Linked DNA regions of Homo sapiens: region 1 is linked to region 2. The links come from fine-mapping of genetic effects on gene expression. Tissue or cell type: whole blood. Region 2 holds a variant in brackets; the other region holds the start of a gene. All regions are shown on one strand. Distances are between the middles of the regions.

Region 1 (10,330 bases), 110 kb after region 2:
GAAGCAGGAGAATTGCTTGAACCTGGGAGGCGAAGGTTGCAGTGAGCCAAGATTGCACCATTGCACTCCAGCTCTGGGTGACAGAGCAAGACTCCATCTCTGTGGAAAAAAAAGAAAAGGAGAAACAAATGTGAGTGTAAGCAAGGCGAGTGTTTCCTCTATGATTAGTAATTAGCAGTCTTCAAAAAGACATTCTGTGGCTTGGGGTTTAATAGTAAAATAATTAGCTGGCATGGTGACATGTTCCTGTACTCCCACCCAAGAGGCTGAAGTGGGAGGATTGTTTGAGCCCAGGAGTTTGAGGCTGCAGTGAGCTGTGATTGCACCACTGTACTCCAGCCTGGACAAGATTGAGAGAGATCCTGTCTCAAAAAAAAAATAAGTAAAACTGGTGGTTTAACCTCAAGGCTTACAACTCATTGTTTTGTAAGGTTTGCAGAAGATCTCAATCCTTTACAAGTAGGAAGGAAAAGCCTGTTGGTTTGAGAGGGAACTGGGTGTGTGCATAGGCCTGTTGGTAGGAGAACTGGAGCACTCAAAAAGGGAGCTGCACGATGCTTATGCCGGCTTCACTGAGGGCTGTGGGCATTGGAGGAATGGGCTTTGAAGGACAATTAGGAGTTTGTGGGGTAAACAAATGCATGGGGGAAGCGGATTAGGGAGAGGTCTCCCATGCAGAGGGACCAGTGTGAGCAAAGCCAAAGAGGCTGGAAGAGACTAGGGATGTCCTGGGAATAGATATTAGACAGGGAATGATAAGGGTGAGGCATGGGGGCTGGTCTCCAAGACCAGTGTGGGAGGTTGGAATTTTCCCCCAGGAATACAGGAAGCATGGAAAAAATTCTGAGGATGGAATACGGAGGGCCTGAGGTATGTGGTGGCTCACTGTTGTGTGTTTCTCATTTCTGGATCTAAGAGACATTCTTTAATCCAGCAAATGTTTACTTACCTACACTGTAATCATATGCTGAGTACACAGAGATGGATCAGACACAGCTGGAAGGAACCAGATACACACATGCCCATGCACACATGCACACTGACATGTACACCGAGACACACACATCAGACACACATTCACACACAGCACACAGATACACACAGACATACATATATACAGACATGTGCACACACAAACATGCATGCACTCACAGTCACACATGAACACACATAGCCAATTATACTATAAAGTACAAAAAAAAAATTTTTTTTTGAGACAGGGTCTTGCTCTGTCACCAGAGCAAAAGCTGGAGTACAGTGGCGTTATCTCGGCTCACTGCAACTGCAACCTCCACCTCCTGGGCTCCAGCGATCCTCCCACCTCAGCCTCCCAAAGTGTTGGGATTACAGGCATGAGCCATGGCACCCAGCCTAGAATCTTACTTGAGGTAAAATGAGAATCCACTGGAAGGTTTTGGTTTTTTTGAAACAGAGTCTTGCTCTGTCACCCAGGCTGCAGTGCAGTAGCACAATCTTGACTCACTGCAGCCTCCACCTCCCAGGTTCAAATGATTCTCTCGCTGCAGCATCCAGAGTAGCTGGGATTACAGGGGCGCACCACCACGCCCAGCTAATTTTTTCATTTTTAGTGGAGACAGGGTTTCACCATGTTGGCCAGGCTGGTCTCGAACTCCTGATCTCAGGTGATCCACCACCTCGGCCTCCCAAAGTGCTGGGATTACAGGCCTGAGCCACCGTGCCTGGCCCATTAGAAAGTTTTAAACAGGAGTAATGTGGTGTGGCTTGCAATTAAGAGATCGCTCTGGTGCCAGGTGGGAAATAGCCACATGGGCAAGGGCAGGGCGTACTGCAATAATCCAGTGACCAATGGTGGTGTCACAAGTGCTTATATAAAAAGATGCCTTCACTGTATATTAGCCATTGAGCTTTTTTCTTTTTTACAAACGTTCCATGGATTCATAAACTATTTGCCAACCATTGCTCTAGACTAACCTCCTCATTTTCTTTTTTTTCTTTTTTTTCTTTTTTTTTGAGACCAAGACCAAGTTTTGCTCTTGTTGCCCAGGCTGGAGTGCAATGGTGCAGTCTCAGCTCACTGCAACCTCCGCCTCCCAGGTTCAAGTGATTCTCCTGCCTCAGCCTCCCAAGTAGCTGGGATTACAGGCGCGTGCCACCAGGCCTGGCTAATTTTTGTATTTTTAGCAGAGACAGGGTTTCACCGTGTTGGTGAAGGTCAGGCTGGTCTCAAACTCCTGACCTCAGGTGAACCACCCACCTTGGCCTCCCAAAGTGCTGGGATTATGGGCTTGAGCCACTGCACCCAGCCTAACCTCTTCATTTTCTAGATGAGGACACTGAAGCTTGGAGAGGAACAGAAATTGGCTCAGGCTAAGGAAGATCTGTCAATCTCTCTTGCACCAAAAAGGCAAAGCCACCTTTCTCAAGGGGCTGTGTATTGGGGTGTTCTTGCACTGCTATAAAGAAATACCTGAGACTAGAAGTAATTTATAAGAAAAGAGGTTTGATTGGCTCAAGGTTCTGCAGCTGTACAGGAAGCGTGGTGCCAGCATCTCCTTCTGGGGAGGCCTCAGAGAGCTTTTACTTATGGCAAAAGGATGCAGGCCAGAGAAGGGGAGCGAGAGAGAGTAAGAAGGGGAGGTGCCACACACTTAAACAACCAGATCTGGCAAGGACTCACTCATCATTGCAAGGACAGCACCAAGTCATGAAGGATCTGCCCCCATAACCCAAACACCTTCCACCAGGTCGCATCTCCAACACTGGGAATTACATTTCAACATGAGATTTGGGCGGGGGACAAATATCCAAACTATGTCACGGAGCAAGAGGAGGTCCCTGGAGCTGTTGAAGCAGAAATGGGGTGAAGAATAGAGGTGGAGGGTGCTTAGGCTTCCAAGGTCTCTTCTAGGTGTGAGATGGAGGGATTCTGCGACCAAGTCACCTGGAGAGTGACTCAACAAGGTGACTGCTTTCCCAAGCACGAGCCCTCGGGGGACAGACGGGGGCTGAAAACTGGCACACATTCTTCCTGGATCCTTTGACATGTGATCATTCAAAGATAACAGTTCAAAGATAACAAAGGGATTGAAGCTTTACCAATCCCTTTCTTATTGTGGCATTTTCTCTATTAAAAATAAATACTCATTTATACTATAACTTACAGAATCAGTACCAATTCTGAAAGTATACAAAGCGTTGCCTTACTTTAAGGAAGGAGACCACTACTACTCCTGCTGCCCTCCTCCCCCGACCTTGCCTAGTTCACAAGACAGGAGGAAAGAGAGAAAGCAAAAAGTTGGAAAGAAACAGAAGTAAGATAAATAGCCAGTCAACCTTGGCACCACCACCCAGCCCTAGGAGTTAAAAAAAGTAATAATAATAACAGCAACCCCTGACCTAAACTACTTGTGTTATCTGTAAGTTCCAGACATTATATGAAAAAGCATTGCAAAACTTTCTGTTCTGTTACCTGATGCATGTAGCCCCCAGTCACGTTTCCCACGCTTGCTCGATTTATCACGACCCTTTCATGTGGACCCCTCGAAGTTGTAAGCCTTTAAAAAGGCCAAGAATTGGCCAGGCGTGGTGGCTCATGCCTGTAATCCCAGCACTTTGGGGGGCGGGCGGATCACGAGGTCAGGAGATCGAGACCATCCTGGCTAACACAGTGAAACCCCATCTCTACTAAAAATACAAAAAAATTAGCCGGGTGTGGTGGTGGGTGACTGTAGTCCCAGCTACTCGGGAGGCGGAGGCAGGAGAATGGCATGAAGTCGGGAGGCAGAGCTTGCAGTGAGCCGAGATTGCACCACTGCACTCCAGCCTGGGCAACAGAGGGAGACTCCAAAAAAAAAAAAAAAGGCCAAGAATTTATTTTTCAGGGAGCTCGGCTCTTAAGACGCAAGTCTGCTGAGGCTCCCGGCCAAATAAACCTCTTCCTTCTTTAATCCAGTATCTGAGGAGTTTTGTCTGCAGCTCATCCTGCTACAACTTCATGTCACACCTGGAAAGCTTACATAGGCCAGGGGTGGTGGCTCACGTCTGTAATCCCAGTACTCTGGGAGGCCGAGGTGGGCAGATCACCTGAGGTTAGGAGTTCAAGACCAGCCTGGTCAACACGGCGAAACCCCGTCTCTACTAAAAATACAAAAATTAGCCAGGTGTGGTGGCAGGTGCCTGTAATCCTAGCTGCTCAGGGGAGACTGAGGCATGAGAATCGCTTGAACCTGGGAGAGGGAGGTTGCAGTGAGCTGAGATCACGTCACTGCACTCCAGCCTGGGGGATAGAGAGAGGCTCTGTCTCCAAAAAAAAAATACAAAAAATTAGCCAGGCATGGTAGCTTATGCCTGTAATCCCAGCTACCTGGGAGGCTGTGGTAGGAGAATCACTTGAACCCAGGAGGAGGAGGTTGCAGGGAGCCAAGATTGTGCCATTGCACTCCAGCCTGGGCAAAAAGAGCAAAAGTCTGTCAAAAAGGGAAGGGAAGGGGAGGGGAAGGGAGGGGAGGGGAGGGAAGGGAAGGTTACATAGATGTGAAAGTGAACTGCCAGCCATGAGCAACAAATCCGAGTGACATGTCTTCTTCATGGTCCTGACACGGACGCGTGGGTTCGATCTGACAGCAGCCTGTGCCATCATAGCTACTGCTCATGCATGCATTCGGGGTGCCCAAAGTGATGCTGAGGGGGGCATTCCTAGATTCAACCCTCCAGGAGACCATGAGGAGGCTGGTGCGATAGCGCAATCAGATGAAGACGCCTGGGCTGCACAGGGGCCACTGCAAGTGAAGACTCAAGAGGCCAAGCTGACTCCCAGAGGCTAGGGCCACTAAGGTGGGTGCCGAGGCAGGGGCCAGGCTGGGAACATGAGAGGCCATTTGGGTAGGGAGATAAGTTCCGTGAGTGAGGGCCAAGGGTCTGACCTCCTAGTGTGGCTGGAGAAGCAGAGACAACAGAGTGCAAAAAGAGAAATGGGCCAGGCGAGGCCATCTGGCAACGCACTGCCCACCCTCCATTGCGTGCCTCTGGCTGCAAAAACAGGCAGGATCTTCCGGCCGGTTTGCCCGCCACTCACCTTCCGAGCATGCGCACCCTCCGAGATTGCCAGGAATTGACTTCTCTGTGGCCAATGAGGTGCCGCGTTCCTCCAGGCTCATCCAATGAACTTATCCGATGCTTTTGCATCCACCAATGGGGTTTCGAGTGCTGTGTGGCCAGGCTGGCCCGGCCTTGCGTCGTAAGAGAATGCCAAGCCCGGGGAGAAGGCGTTCCGGGCCTCAACTTTGGCGTCGTGAGATTCTTGTGAGGCGTCTGCCTGGAAGCCGGCAGCAATTTTGCTTCTTTAAAGAGAAAAAGAAGGCTAGGGACTCAGATTCCTGGATTCTGAGGAAAGAGAAGGCTGGGGACCCAGATCCTGGCTCTGAGGGGAACGAGGGTTGGGGGCCTGGGCTCCCGGGCCTGAGAGGGAGGGGACCAGAATGGTGTGTCCCGCAGGAAAAGGTGGTTGGAACCCAGACTCCTCGATCCCTACATAGGACGGGGCTGGGCTCTCAGAATCCCGGGTTCTGATGAGGCTGGGGCTGGGGCTGGGGGCCGAGATTCTGGGTCCCTGAGAGAATGTAAGGGACCCCTGAGACTGAGGGAGAAGCGGCCTTCAGGGCCACACTCCTGATCCTGAAGTTGGAGGGCACTGGGTGGCCGGGCCTGAGAATTAAAACCATGAAAAACTGGGGCGTGATAAACCTGTGAACTCGCTCCAGCTCACAAGCCGGTTAGGGACAGAACGACTTTAGAAGTCGTGGTCATATACACCATAAACCCCACTGTGAGGCCGGGCATCAGGGCTCACTCCTGGAATCCCAGCACTATGGGGGGACGAGGCGGGCAGATCACCTGAGATCAGGAGTTCGAGACCAGCCTGACCAACATGGTGAAACGTCATCTCTACTAAAAATACAAAAAATTCACTGGGTGTGGTGGCGGGCACCTGTAATCCCGGCTACTCGGGAGGCTGAGGCAGGAGAATTGCTTGAACCTGATAGGCAGAGGCAGTGAGCCGAGATTGCGCCACTGCACTCCAGCCTGGGCGACAGTGCAAGACTCCGTCTCAAAAAAAAAAAAAATGCAGATTAAAACACCCCACCCTGAAGTCAGTACTTGCCAGGACCTAGATTTGATCTCATGCACTCTGGCTGAAAAGTTAATTGCCTTCTCTCCATCAAATTCACAGATCCAGACCAGCTCCTCCCAGACCTCTCCAGAAGAAGCCATGGGAACCCCTCGTATCCAGCATTTGCTGATCCTCCTGGTCCTAGGAGCCTCCCTCCTGACCTGTGCGTATGGGGGACATAGGGGAGAGCCGTGTGTCACAGAAGGTGGACTGATGATGAAAAGGGAGCCGCCTTGGCCCATGGAGAAGTGCTTATCCTTTTCTTGTTTTCTCCTCAGCGGGCCTAGAGCTGTATTGTCAAAAGGGTCTGTCCATGACTGTGGAAGCAGATCCAGCCAATATGTTTAACTGGACCACAGAGGAAGTGGAGACTTGTGACAAAGGGGCACTTTGCCAGGAAACCATACTAATAATTAAAGCAGGTGAAATGAGATGGGGCATTTGGGCTGGGTAGGAGGGAGGTTGATTATCTCCATGCCAATGCTTGTTCCCTTCGTCCAGGCCAATTGTGACGGCCACCATCCATTTCCCCTCCTTCCTGTCTCATAACAGGGACTGAGACAGCCATTTTGGCCACGAAGGGCTGCATCCCGGAAGGGGAGGAGGCCATAACAATTGTCCAGCACTCTTCACCTCCCGGCCTGATCGTGACCTCCTACAGTAACTACTGTGAGGATTCCTTCTGTAATGACAAAGACAGCCTGTCTCAGTTTTGGGAGTTCAGTGAGACCACAGGTACCCTGGAAGTGGGGGAGATAGGTACTAAGAGAAACTCCATAAAGAGCTTGTGTATGGCCTCCCTTTGCATTCTGACTTGGCTTAGCCTAAGTGGTCCATACCCCAAAGTACCTCACAGTTCAAGTAATTTTATGTTTCTGAATTGTTCATTGGGATCTAAACACTGCTCAGAGCAGCGAGATACCAGTGAAGCCTGGAGTGTAAACTGGGTTTTGTGTTTATTAAGCAATAAGACAGGCTGGGTGAGGTGGATCGCCTGAGGTCAGGGGTTTGGGACCAGCTTGGCCAACATGGTGAAAACCTGTCTCTACTAAAAATACAAAAATTAGCTTAGCCTGGTGGCGCACACCTGTAATCCCAGATACTCGGGAAGCTGAGGCAGGAGAATTGCTTGAACCCAGGAGGCAGAGGTTGCAGTGAGCCAATATCACACCACTGCACTTCAGCCTGGGACAGAGAGCAAGACTCCATCAAAAAAAAAAAAAAAAAAAGCAATAAGACATCAGTGTAGGTTTCCGAACAGGGTGGTATTATCAGTCTAACAAGTATTGGTTTCCCACTGCTGCACGAGAACGGCCCAGTTCCCCAATTTACAAGGCCTGTAGTAACTTGGCCCTTCCTGTCTTTTCAGCTTCATTTCCCTCTCTTCCCTCTCTCATTTACTGTGTGCTAACTGGGGCTAATACTCAAAATGCTTAACAATGTAGATGGCACTGGCCAATCAAAATGGATTCTGGCCATAAAAAACAAAAACAAAAACAAAAAAAACAGATCAAAGAAACAGCTGGGCCTACAAGCTGAATATGAGTCGTGCAACTTCTCACAATTCCCTGAATCCACCAAGCTGGCTCACACCACCTGACCTTTGTCCTTGCTGTTTCCTTTACTACCCTCCCCACCCCATTTTCACATAGCTAACCCCTGTTCATCCTCCATGTCAATTCAGGTATCAGCTCTTTGAAAATATTTGCCAAATTCTTTTAGGTAGTTGGGTATTCCTCCATTCCTTTGTCATTATACCTTGAACACAGCAGCTACTGAATTGATTACTTACATGTCTTTCTCCTAGGCAGAGATGCCAGGTGACAGGAACTATGTCCTTTTCATCTCTGTATCTTCACACCTCAGCAGAGTTTGGAAGTCAGATCGATGGAGATTTCACAGCAGAGAACACCAGCTGGGGAAGGATGGGGAGGCTGAAGTAATGGGCCTTGATTAGAGTGGCATCTGCAGGAAAATCTTGGGGAAGAGAAGGCAGCAAGGAGCAACATCTCTGGAGGCAGGACCTGCCCTTAACTGTCTCTCTCATTTCCCTCCAGCTTCCACTGTGTCAACAACCCTCCATTGTCCAACCTGTGTGGCTTTGGGGACCTGTTTCAGTGCTCCTTCTCTTCCCTGTCCCAATGGTACAACTCGATGCTATCAAGGAAAACTTGAGATCACTGGAGGTAAACTGAAATGAACATCTGATAGTTTCAGAGGCTGGAAAACCATTTGAGTGGCTCCCCAGAGATTCTGACACTGAGCTCTCCAGGGATGAGGGGGGACTGGATTCTCCTCTGATGTCCTAAAACATCTCTGTCTCTCCCGATCCTTCCTTGTTCTATAGGTGGCATTGAGTCGTCTGTGGAGGTCAAAGGCTGTACAGCCATGATTGGCTGCAGGCTGATGTCTGGAATCTTAGCAGTAGGACCCATGTTTGTGAGGGAAGCGTGCCCACATCAGCTGCTCACTCAACCTCGAAAGACTGAAAATGGGGCCACCTGTCTTCCCATTCCTGTTTGGGGGTTACAGCTACTGCTGCCATTGCTGCTGCCATCATTTATTCACTTTTCCTAAGAAGGCACTTCTGGGCCTGGGTCTGAGGACATCTTTTTTGACTGGGAGCCTTCTTACTGTTGAGGTTCAACAAGCTGAGGAGTAGATGGGAATTTGAGGGAGAATACAGAGATACTATGAACGTATTTGACATTTTTAATACAATTTCTGCTATAATTTTTGTATGCAGTAGGCGTTACTAATAAACATTTCTGCTGTGATTTGTGTATGTTTCAACACTAGAAGTGGAATTTTAGTGCTGAAAGAGCCTTTAAAATTCATCTTCTCCAAACCACACATTCTCCAGAAAGAGAATCTGAGATCTGGAAAATTTCAGTGAGTTTCTTACATTTAGCTATGGCCAGAGCCAAGGCAAGAACTTACATATTTTGACGTAAAGTCTGATTTTCCTTTCACTCTAATATGCTAGCTCTCCTTGCTAGCAGAAGTAACTAGCATTAGCCTCCTCCAGAACACTCCCAGCCCAATCTTAAGGCTGCTGTTTTGGGGTTCTAAAATTTCCCTAGGAAGTATGGCCAAATGAGAAAAATCAGACTCCAAATTCTCCAGTTATGGGCCTGCTGTAGTGGCTTATACCTGTAATCCCAGCACTTTGAGAGGCAGAGGTGGGAGGATTGCATGAGCCAAGGAGTTTGAGACCAGCCTGGGCAACCTAATGAGACTACATCTCTACAAAAAAAAATAATCCAAAAATTAGCCTGGCATGGTGGCGCTCGCCTGTAGTCCCAGCTACTTGGGAGGCTGAAGTGGGATGATCACTTATGTCCACAAAAAGAGTCAAACTCTGTAAAATATTTGAAAAGATTTATTCTGAACCAAATGTGAGTGACCGTGGTGTGTGACACAGCCCTCAGGAGACCCTGAAAACGTGCCTAAGGTGGTCGGGGCACAGCCTAGTTTTATACCGTTTAGGAAGACATGAGGCAATCAAATACATGTAAGATGTACATTGTTTCAGTCCAGAAAGGCAGGACAACTCCAAGTGGAGGAAACTTCCAGGTTATAGGTAGATTCAAAAATTTTCTGATTGGCCATTGGTTAAAAGAGTTATTATCTAAAGACCTGGAATCAGTAGAAAGGAATGTCTGGGTTACGATGATAAGGGATTGTGGAAACCAAAGTTTTATTACACAAATGAAGCCACCATGTCGCAGGCTTCAGAGAGAATACATTGTAAATGTTTATCAGACTTAAGGTCTGTGTTGATGTTCATGCTGGTCAGCTTTTCCCAAAATCCAAAAGGGAGGCGGGTATATTGAGGCATGGCCGACTCTCCCTTCCCACAGCATGGCCTGAACCAGTTTTTCAGGTTAACTTTGGAAAGCCCTGGCTGAGAGGAGGGGACCCTTCAGATGGTTGGGGGCGGGGAGTGGCTTATAATTTTATTTTTTGTCTGCACTTGAGCTCAGGAGGTTGAGGCTGCAGTGAGCCATGATCATGCCTCTGTACTTCAGACTGGATGACAGAGTGAGATCCTCTATCAAAACAAAAGGCAAATTCTCTCATTACAGTGGGCCCCATTTCTCTGTGTCCTGTCTATCCCTTGCCTGCTCTACATCATTCCTTCCCTTCCCTGGGGCTGACTTAATGACTCTTCAGTGG
Region 2 (10,330 bases):
AAAGTATACTTTACCAAATTGCTTTAGATATAGCTAGCTTAAAAGAAGAAAAATTCCATAAATCTGGAAAAAATCATTTAAAGAATCAGCAAATTTTCAAATAAAAATTATAAAAACATTATCCACATTATCATTTATTTCAATGAAATTATTTTTGTTAAGCTTGGCCTAGGTTGGCATATTTCATGAAGGCATCAGCCTGTTTGTTAAAGTTTTGGAAGTCCATAGAGAGTCCAGTGGTATAATCTTGAACTGCTCAGAAACTTGTATGCAAGAGTACTTGTCAGTATCTTTTCCATAAATCTTTTGAAATAGAAGCAATTTTGGACTGTAGCTGATTGCAGATGCTTTCAGGAAGAATCAAAACAACTATCTGTGAATCACCAACATGTAAAATGACTGTTGTTAAAACTCTGATAAGAGTTTGGTATAATAAAGACAGTAACTCCAGCCAGTACTCCAATCATGATGCTGACAGTGGCCCCAACTGAGAGACCAAAAGAACTTTCTTGTCCTGAAGCAGCTGTCATGGAAAAAAAAAGAAGAGAAGGAATAAATGATAAAGACAGCTCACATAGAAATTTAGTTACTTCTGTGGCATATTACATTCTGACTAACTTCTGTGGAATATGACATGATTATTATAATAACATATTCAGTTTCTAGGAATCTCATAATTTTGGGGACACTCACATCAGTAACATACCCATAAATAAAACTTAGAGAAGGTTTAGCATCACTTATCACTTATCATTTGAAAATGCTTTTTATATAATTTAACATATCAAATAAGGTGGCTTTTCCATTTAGCTTCTGTTTCTCAACTGGATTAGTGAGTTGTTGATGTAGCCTATTAATGAAGAAGGACAACATTATCGAGAATGTGAAAAGGCAACCCATGAGATGGAAAACTATTTGCAAATTATACATCTGATAAGGGATTAATTTTCAAAATATTATATTCAGAATATTTCAGAAGAACTACATATCAAAAACAGTGGGGGGAATAGGGAGTTGTTCAGTGGGTCTGCAGTTTCTGTGATGCAGAATGAGAAAGTTCTAGAGGTCTACTGTACAGCTTGGTGCCTATACTTCATACAGATTGAGTATTTCTTATGCATAAGACTTAGGACCAAAAGTGTTTTGGATGTCCTACTTTTTTTGATTTTGGAATATTTGCAGTATACTTACTGGTTTAGCATTTCATATTTTAATAATTCAAAATCCAAATGTTCCAGTGAACATTTCTTTTAAGCATCACATCAGGGGTCAAAATCGTTGGATTTTAGGGCATTTCAGACTTTGGATTTTTAGATTTGGGATGCTCAATGTTTACTACTAACATTTGCATTTAAAAATTCATCATGAGTTTGGACTTCATGTCATGTTCTGACAATAGTAAAATGAAAATTTGCAGGAAACATTTTTTTTCTATAAGTGGACACTGTTATTAACGGCCCAAAGATCTAAGATCGATTGCTGGAAGTAGTATTCATCTTGATAACATAAAAAGGTTTAGGTCTGCTCTGAATTCCAGTTGGATCACATTATGCTCAAAGAAAGGTGCTGAAGATGGTTTGGAATTAGCAACTCCCTGGGTAGTGGGAGGCATGTGCATTCTGTTGGGAGGACAGGATTGATCAGAGAGAAAGTCTTAGGTGTGTCAATTACATAAAGTGAGGAATGACGCCAAATTAAGAGAAGTGATGTGTGTTATGTTAGTGAATTTAGAAAGAGCTCCCTGCTTCTAATTTCTGTGCAGTTAGGCAAAAAGGGGAGGAGCCCAAAAGAGGCATGTGAAATGCTTTCATCATTTTCTCTTGATCTCAAGAAACACTAGAGTTTGATTACATTTGTTTAAATTGGGCAGAGTCTAAGGGAGACGCCAGTGCCTCATGCATCTCCCCACCTGAAGGACCCCACCTTTCGACAATGGTGTCATCATGAGGACACAGGTGTGTGTAAAACTGGCAGCAAACCCATCAGACAGCACCCACCTGGCCAGCTCCATCCTGTCCCAGGAACCACTACTATTCTCATTATGTGTATGTTACAGACTTTGAAGTGGTCCCACAACTCCAAAATATAAAATATGCTATTGTCAATACAAAATATTGGAAAGAAAGCTGGATAAGTTGTTCCACTTTTTTCGCATTCTTTTTAAACTTTGCTGTTTCCGTTTTAGAAGTTTCTGTTGACACACCCTCAAGCTAGATATTTGTTCCTCAGTTGTGCCCAGGCTACCAGGCTTCTTCATTTATAGACTTTTTTTTATAGCATTGTTTAAAGTTCTTTCTTAGAATATCCATCTCTCTGCCTACATCACCCATCTTTTCCTGCATGGTGTCTACTTTTTCCTTCATAACTGGTAACCAGAGTTGCTTTAAATTTTCAGTCTGATAATTTCAACATCTCTGCCATATCTGTGTCTGGTTCTGATCCTTGCTCTTTCAAACCACATTTTTTTTTTTTTTGCCATAGCCTGTCTTGTACTTTTTTCTGTTTTTTTTTTTTTTTTGAAAGCCAGACATGATGTACTGGGTAAAAGGAACTTGGGTGAGCCGGCCTTCAATGATATAGTGGTGAATGTGGGGAGGGAGGAGTTCTGTGGTCCTGAATGAGGTCTGTTCCCTGGGTTGTGAATGTCACAACTGCCTCTCAGTATTTTCTCCTCCTTAGGTGGGATATGATGGCTAGAGGGGGCTGGAGTTGGACATTTTCCCTTCACCAGGCCAGTTAAGCTTCCATCAAACCCCAGCTGATTCGGCTATGGTAAAACAATCTTTATGAATACAGGTCTTGCCAGGAAGAATTGAATTCACTGCCATCTAAGTGGTTCCTCCCCATCCCCCACAAGAAAGATGAGGGGAATTTTATTGAATATTCACTGTGAAAACCTGGTATAGTTCCAGGAAGTGAGAGCCATAAAATTGTCCTCCTAATCCCATACCTGATCCATCTGCTGGAGTGTTTAACTCTGTGCCTTGTCCACATTGAGCCTTCAGCAATTCATCAGTTACAGTTCAGGGTTTTTGACTGTGTCTGGATAAGGTCAGCCGGTGGCTAGGATGCAAAAGACACCCCACTGAGTTTCTGGGCCTGGGTTTCTGCTCAGGTAAGACGTGCTGCTCTGTATTTACCTGTGGGTCTCTCCAATTTATGGGGGAGTTGGCTCTGAGACCTTGCTTCTCTGAGCGGTCGAAAAGAGTTTTTGATTTTTAAGTTTATTCATCTTTCTACTTGTTACAACTGAGTGACAACCACAGCAGGATGAGGTTGGAGTGAAATGGGTAAAATAAGCCTGTGGGCATTGGGGACTGTAGACATGTCCTTCCTCTGATCCCCTGGTGAGTCAGTGGAGAGAGTGAAACCACCTTTGCAAAGATTACAGCAGCGAGATGGAGCTAGTATGGCAGACTTCATCTTACCTCTAGCTGGAGGCTGGCTGTCCTTGCTCATTCATGGGCATAGGCCAGGTTAACCATGGGAGGAATTTAGTTTACAGTGTAATTTTGAAGCAAGAATGATAATATCCCCTTACTAAAATAAACTCCCTCCTACTCAAGGATGGTCTTTGTCAAAGTAATACAAGACCATAACATTAGGATTATAGGAGGGACCAAAATCCTGCTAAAATGTAGTCATAGTTTCTATAATCCATTATTGCTCAGGAGTCATGTGGCCAGCAGTCACAAGACTTGTGATTTCTTTAATTGCTCCTATAGATAACATCACTATTATAGATTATGAGATTGGTCTTTTGAGATATTTCTCAGACTTGCATTCTGGCAACCAGCTGGCCTCATCCAGACCCGTGAGCAATGCCTCCAGTCATGTGGCCCCCAGTCAGAGGCAGATCAAACACACAGAGACGATTTCCCCCACCTGCATGATTTCATTCCCATCCAATCACCAGGACCCATTCCTTAGACCTCAAACTTTTTGAAAAACTCCAACCCTAGCCATTGGGGAGGTTGATTTGAGTAATAATAAAATAAGCTCCTGTTTGGCAGCCTTGGGCTAATTAAAATCTTTCTTTACTACAAATCACCCTCTTCATAAATTAGTTTTGCCTGCGCAGGGAGCAGGATGGACCTGTCGGTCTTCCTGTCAGGTAATTATAAGAGTGGATGGAGAAACCACTCATTTCTATCTGGTGGCCTGTTCCATGAGTCAGCCTCTCAGAAGGAAAGAGCCCTGGAACAGGATACAGTGAAAGCTCATTCTCCTGGTGACCTGAAGACAATGGCTCATAATGGAGCCTGGCGGAAGTGGCAACTCTGGCTAATTTCAGTGTTTTTTTTGGGGGTGGGGAGGGGGTGCAGTCAGGCCACAGTGTGAGCAGAAAAGGAGCAGAATAGTCAGCTTTTGTCTGAGGAAGTCCAAAGCATGGAGAAAGATGTGCTGGACAGGGCATGCCAGCTAGAATGAAGGTGGAGCCGGGGGCAGAAGATGAGGGACACAGAGGAGCAGAGGGAGCCAGAGACACCCATGGCAGGGAGCAGTGACCCCAGTGACCAGGGGCCCCCAGGGTCTCAGTTCAGTACCAGGGATCCCTGAAAGCCCTCCCATGGCCTAGGAACCCTGGAGTCACATGAGACGAGGTAGCTTTAGGGACAGGGAGTAAGAGGGAAGGAACATGGGTCTCAGCACCCAAGTGATAGGGAACAGGTGTGGCCAGAAACCTCTAGGATTCTGCATCCAGGATCCGGTCCCTAAAGAGGTTATGAATCATTCATTCCTTCATTCAATGGCTCCTTCCCTCATGTGAGAACTACAGAGTGTGTATCTCACACTGAGCCTGTGTTAGTGTGAATGGGGAGAGAAAGCCAAGTCCTCTCCTTTATTCTTTCATGGGAATGATACTGACTCTTTGGAAAACACAGGATTTCAGGTTCCATGAGGAGGATTAGGATCTGAGGGAAAGGTCTGGACATTCCTCCTACTGGCTCTGACAGTTGAGGCAGGTGATTTAGTTCTGGAGTACAAACGAATCAGTAGTCCATTTGCTCTCACTCCTCTGAGGTTTGGATGCCTAAGAAGAAAGGATTTGAGCCGACAGATGACCATGGGCTCCTTAGAACTTAATAAGACCTCACTTCTCATGGAGGAGAGGATGGAGGTGTGGTTACAGAAAGACCTCGTGTGACTCTGATCTGCCCCTCATGTTTGTGTGACCCTGGTTCAGTGACTGTGTCTCCCTGTGGCTCAGTTTCCTCTCAATCATATAAGCTAAATGGTAAATGGTCTGTGACTTGTCGTGTTGACTCTGAATGAACTTTAAATTATTCACAGTCACCTGACCTAACGCTTGGCATAGAGGAGGTGTTCACACAAACAGTGTTTATTATTTGCCT[T/C]CATGAGTGAGCACCCTCAGACCTGATCCCTGTGGACAAGTTGCTGCCGGGAACATCTTGTCTCTTCTATTTCTGTCCCAGGGGACACTGAACTTTCTATGGGGTCTCCTAAGCCTCCCAGGGCAGTTGGCTGATAGCCTAAGAAGCTTGTCCATCTGTTCACTCTGAGTCTCAGGTGAAAGAGAAGGCTCTGTCTTTGACCAGATGAGGCTCTTGGGGCTGAACCCTGCCTGGGAGCAGCTCCAGAGCCACATCCATCATACAGCTGGTCAATACTTGCTCCCAGTCAGTCCTGCTCAGGAGGCCACAACCCAGCCCTGGCACAGGTTTTCCAGGGTCACTTGGATTCAGGATCTGAGGACTGGGTTCTGGGGCCAGGGCTTCTAGGCTTCTAGGACTGAGCTTCTCTATAAGGATCCCAGGGGACCCCTCAAACCGGGCCCTGATGTAGTTCTCCAGGGTCTTTTTCCGAATCATGTTCATGGGAAGTGCACAGGGTGATGGGCTGAGACTGATCTCCTCCTGCTGAGTTTCCCCCATCAGATTGTCCTTTCTCTGCAGCACGTGTCTTCAGAGTATGGATGCAGGAAATGAATTCTGATCCATTGAAATTTGTCTACCCTGTGTGTGTCCTGCACTGAATGCCCAAACACTAAAATGGGACATAATGCAGAGGGGGACACAGGCACAGCCCAGGCCTAACAATCCTGTGGGTGCGTGAAGTAGAACTGACCCCCAACACCCAGAGGTCATGAATTCCTCACGGTGTACACGGAAATATCCAGTTGCTTCTTCAATGGTAAAATCTGTCTTTATGATTTGTAGGGTATAGAATCCTGTGTCATCCTGGGTGACTTTCCGGGTCAGCAGGGATGCATTGGCAAATATTACCTCCTGACTACTGTATGCAGGTCCTGAGCTAGATCTTTGAATGCCTGTTGCATATCCTAAAATTCAATAGTAGAGATCCACACTTCTTCCTTTGTGCCAATTGTAGCCCATCACTTTCAGGGGCAGATTGTGGGCAAGTAGAAAAAACTCCTCCTCCTCCTCCTCTGTGGCATTGAATGGCATGGCTTCAGTAGTGACTCTGGCAGTGGTGGGTGGGTTCCAGAAGGTTAAAAGTGAGGCTAGGATGGGGAGGGAGCATCAGTCAATATCAAAACCTATGTATTGGGATGGAAAGTTGGGGCCCTTTGTCCTTAGAGGTTCTCTTCACCCATGAGCCTTGGAGAGAGAGAGAATGTGTGTGTGTGTGTGTGTGTGTGTGTGTGTGTGTGTGTGTGTGTGTGTGTGTGTGTCCTGCTGGGTCAAGGTCAGCAGCATGACCCCCATTCCTTCAACACCTCTGAACTTGGCATTTCCCTGTGTGGAATCCTCTTCCCCAGGGGTCTGCATGGTTCCCTTTCCACTGACCTCATATCCTGCTCACATCAGGGCATCCTTGAAAGAGCCCTTTCTTGACACCTCCACTAGAGATTCTGGGTCTTCCCTTTCTCACTTTTCCCTGCTCAGTTTTCTCCAGGGCTCTTGTCAACACCTGACCTCACATTCTAGATATCCTTGCGTGTCTCGCTCCCCTCCCCATAACAGCATCAGGTTCATGAGGGCAGGGACTTGTATGATCTTGGTTGTACCGCAGTGCCTGGGACATGCTGTGGACTCTTGTGAATGAGTTTGTGAGCATTCCCAGAGCCCTCCAAGGCCTGTGATTTATTTCCCAATTTCTGAAGTTGGTGGCTGATGACAATGCCTTATACCCTCACTATGTTTTTATATGAAGTGTTATCTGATATAGTTATTATGATCATTTTTCAAAATGTAGTGGCCAGTGATGATTAACCGGGAATAGAGAACACTTGAGATTTGTTTGCTTCTTACCATAAATTTCAGTTCAATGTGATTTTCCTGTTTTAATCCTGTCCCTTCTGGTGTCCTCTTTTCTGTTAAGGCAGCAGTAGAAGCTCTAAGTCCTCTTTCCCCAGGAGCCCCATTTTCCCCAGGAGACCCAAGCCAGTCCCTGTGCCTTCTCATTTCCTCTTCAAGGAAGTTCTCTCCTCACCTGTGAACATGAGCTTCTGCCAGAGGATGTGCCATCTGGAGAAAGGGACTGATAGGGGGGCACCATGGTCTGTGCTGCCTGCTTGTCCTCCTCTGTGGAGATGAGCCTGGGATCCGGAAAGTTTCTGAGCAGGGCTGTCAGCTGGGCTGTCCTTCCACCTTCTATGCTGAGCCTCTTCCTGGGGCAGGAGCACTTCTCAGGCTCATGGGTGGGGTCTGTACCCAGGACACCTCTCTGTGCCCTCCCCTCTCAGTCCTGCTTCCTTGTCCCTCCTTTCTGTTTCTCTTCTGTCTGTGTTTCAGGCCCCTGGGAATTGCTGAGTCCTCTGCCTCCTTCAGCAGTGATTCTCTCACCCAACCTCTACACACACTATGTGCAGACACACACACACACACACACACACACACACACACACACAGACATCCTTTAGGTTTGGTAAGCACAGCCCTGGGCCCTCAGTGTCCTCCCATTTCCATTGCTCCAGGTCAGGGTGCACAGTCGCTCCCCCTGCCCTCTCCCATTCCCATCTGGCTTTTCTCTTCAAAGCAGGAGGCTGGGCTGCACCATGACCCTGTCACAGTGATGCACCCTCACCTTGCTTTGGGTGGGCTGAGTGCTGGCTGGTGAGAAGGACCCTCCCTCTCTTTCATTATGTTGAACTTTGCTACAGCTTCCATGGTTAGACATTCGATGACCCGGTTGTCCAAGAGGGTATTTTCCTTCGTGGAGGTGTGCAGGATCAATCTCTTATGCCTCCTGGTAGGAAAGGCCTGTGCTGATTGGTCAGTGGGGCCTATGGGCCCAGTGTTCACCAGGGACAGGTCTCAGCCACTCTCTTGGTCCCTGGGTTCTGGTGGCTGAGCTGGGGTGAGGCCCATCCATTTTCTTCCTGACCATCTTTGGTGTCCTCTGTCCTTGGCCCAGCTGACTGTCCTGTGGTCACCCCACCTTCCCCACGGCTGGTGCAAAAGGGAGTGGGGTGATGCCCAGGGTCCCCACAGAACACAGCTCTTCAAGACCCAGAGAGAGAGACTGGGAAAGAACAGGGGCTCAGAGCTGGAGAGATTTCTGCAGACTTACTCTGCAGCCAGGATGGGCTTAGCCCTTCTTGCTATACATCCCTTGGGGTTCCTCTTGAGGGATTGAGGCAGATCAAGCTCCTCTGTGTAGAAGAAGAACAGGCAGTGGCTGGAGAGCCTGCGTGAAGGGACTTTGCTCACACCTGAGAGGGTGTGTGGGGGTGGGCCATGTTCTGAGAACAAAAGGAGCTCATACCCCCCACTTCACCTTCCCCATGCACAAAGGACAGCCCTGTCTTCCCTCCCAGCTTCACGAGAGACAGCAGGGGGCAGATTGTGGGTGAGTAGAAAAACCTCCAGCAGGTGGCCACATCATGGATGGTGCCTGTGCGTGACCTTCAAACACCCTCTGCACCTCCTAGCGTGCAATGGGCAGGTCATAGGGTGCCTGGCTGATTCCTAGGAATACTGTGGGCACTCAGGCAGCTGCTGTTCTGTGTCAGCACTGGGATCAGCCTGGGATAACCTAGAGAACCGTACAGAGGGAGTGGGGTGGGAATGTAGGGAGCAGTCACAGAAAAAGTTGATAAGGATGGAAAGAGGTCACAAGGGTAAAGTGCCTAATATGGCATCATGTGGACCATCGCTGCCCTTGCAGATGCCCTTTTGGCTGGGTCAGCAGCCCCTGGGGAGTCTTGTGGCTGGGATTCTGCCATCCTCTGGTGAACATGGGGGAAATTTGGATGACAGCAGCCCCAGGCAAGGCTGCATGTTTTATTCCATGTGAATCTGCACATTTCACAGCAGATTATTCACCTATGTCACAGATCCATCACATTCCAGCCCCATGAGTCTCAGTCTCTGTGACTGTAAGTTCACTATCCTCCCTCTATCACAATCAGATGTCCCAAACACAGATTTCTGTCACCTGTGAGTTTGTGTTTGTGTGCAGTGGGCTGCACTGTGTATGCCCTGGGGACAGTGATGTCTGGGTGGGGCTGAGCACTGGGCAGAGGTTTGGAAGCAGAAGAGGGAGGTGCAGGGCAGGAAGATCAATGACAGAGGAGCAGAGAGGGAGCAGGGACAAGTCATCTTTGTTTCTCACTCCCAGGGGACCAAGAATGCAGGACCCTGACCTTAGGGCTCAACACCACACACTGTTGGTGTCCGTGGATGTCACCAGTGCTCGTAATTTCATGTTGCCTTGGCATTCATTTATTAAGGTGTAAGTTTACCTGCTTTATATCAGAGGCAGGGCTTGGTCACCGTGACAGTTCCCAATACTGTACCTGGCCAAATGGCTGCAGTTGGTGGCCAGAGATAAAATCTTAGAGGCATCTCTCCTGCTTAGTGTGCTGGGCTCCCCCTCTACCCAGCTGCTTCCTTTAAACTGACGGTTGTGAAATTTGCCCTGAAATTTAAAGTGACCACCTCTCAGTCACAGCGTGGTCACCTGGCCCCAGTGTTTGCTTGCTTTAAACTCACCCATTAAAGCTTTCTGCTGGAAACCTCAGCTAACGCCTTGGACCCACTAAAGCCATTGGCCTACAGGTCCCTACTTTCCTCTCTGCCTGGACTCCTTGACCTCTGTGTCTATTATCTCTAGGTGTGCCATGTGCTCCTCAGAGTCTGTAAATAGCAAAAAAAAAATTTGTACTTTCACATTGTGGTTGTATCACTATAGCCTCACCTGCCATCTGGTGCCTGACATTGAGGCTGCCCCATGGGACCCATGCTGGTTGAGCCCCTGCTGGAGCTCTTTTCTTGGGGTCTCTGGTGCTGCTGGGGACAGGCACTGTCAGGTGATTTGATGGAGAAATGGAAGAGTTTTATTCAAAACAGTGTGTCAGATGATGTTTTCATGGGCTTCAGCTGCTGTAACAAACACCTTA

What was found. PIP is the estimated chance that this variant, and not a neighbour inherited with it, causes the effect.
Region 1: TEX101 starts here. The variant in region 2 is fine-mapped to the expression of TEX101 in whole blood (TOPMed, PIP above 0.99).

The regions. Positions count from the first base shown.
Region 1 is chr19:43,409,670-43,419,999 of GRCh38, forward strand. It overlaps TEX101 (testis expressed 101), which reads left to right and starts at 5,221. Exons shown (of 6, transcript NM_001130011.3): 1 at 5,221-5,369; 2 at 6,212-6,314; 3 at 6,430-6,573; 4 at 6,704-6,886; 5 at 8,209-8,337; 6 at 8,499-8,928. The coding sequence starts at 6,251. The coding sequence ends at 8,728. RefSeq lists a silencer at 3,422-3,608.
Region 2 is chr19:43,297,050-43,307,379 of GRCh38, forward strand. It overlaps the pseudogene CEACAMP4. Among named protein-coding and RNA genes, the nearest start is that of LINC03078, 29 kb to the right of the region's middle. The variant T/C (reference allele first, on the strand shown) is at 5,358.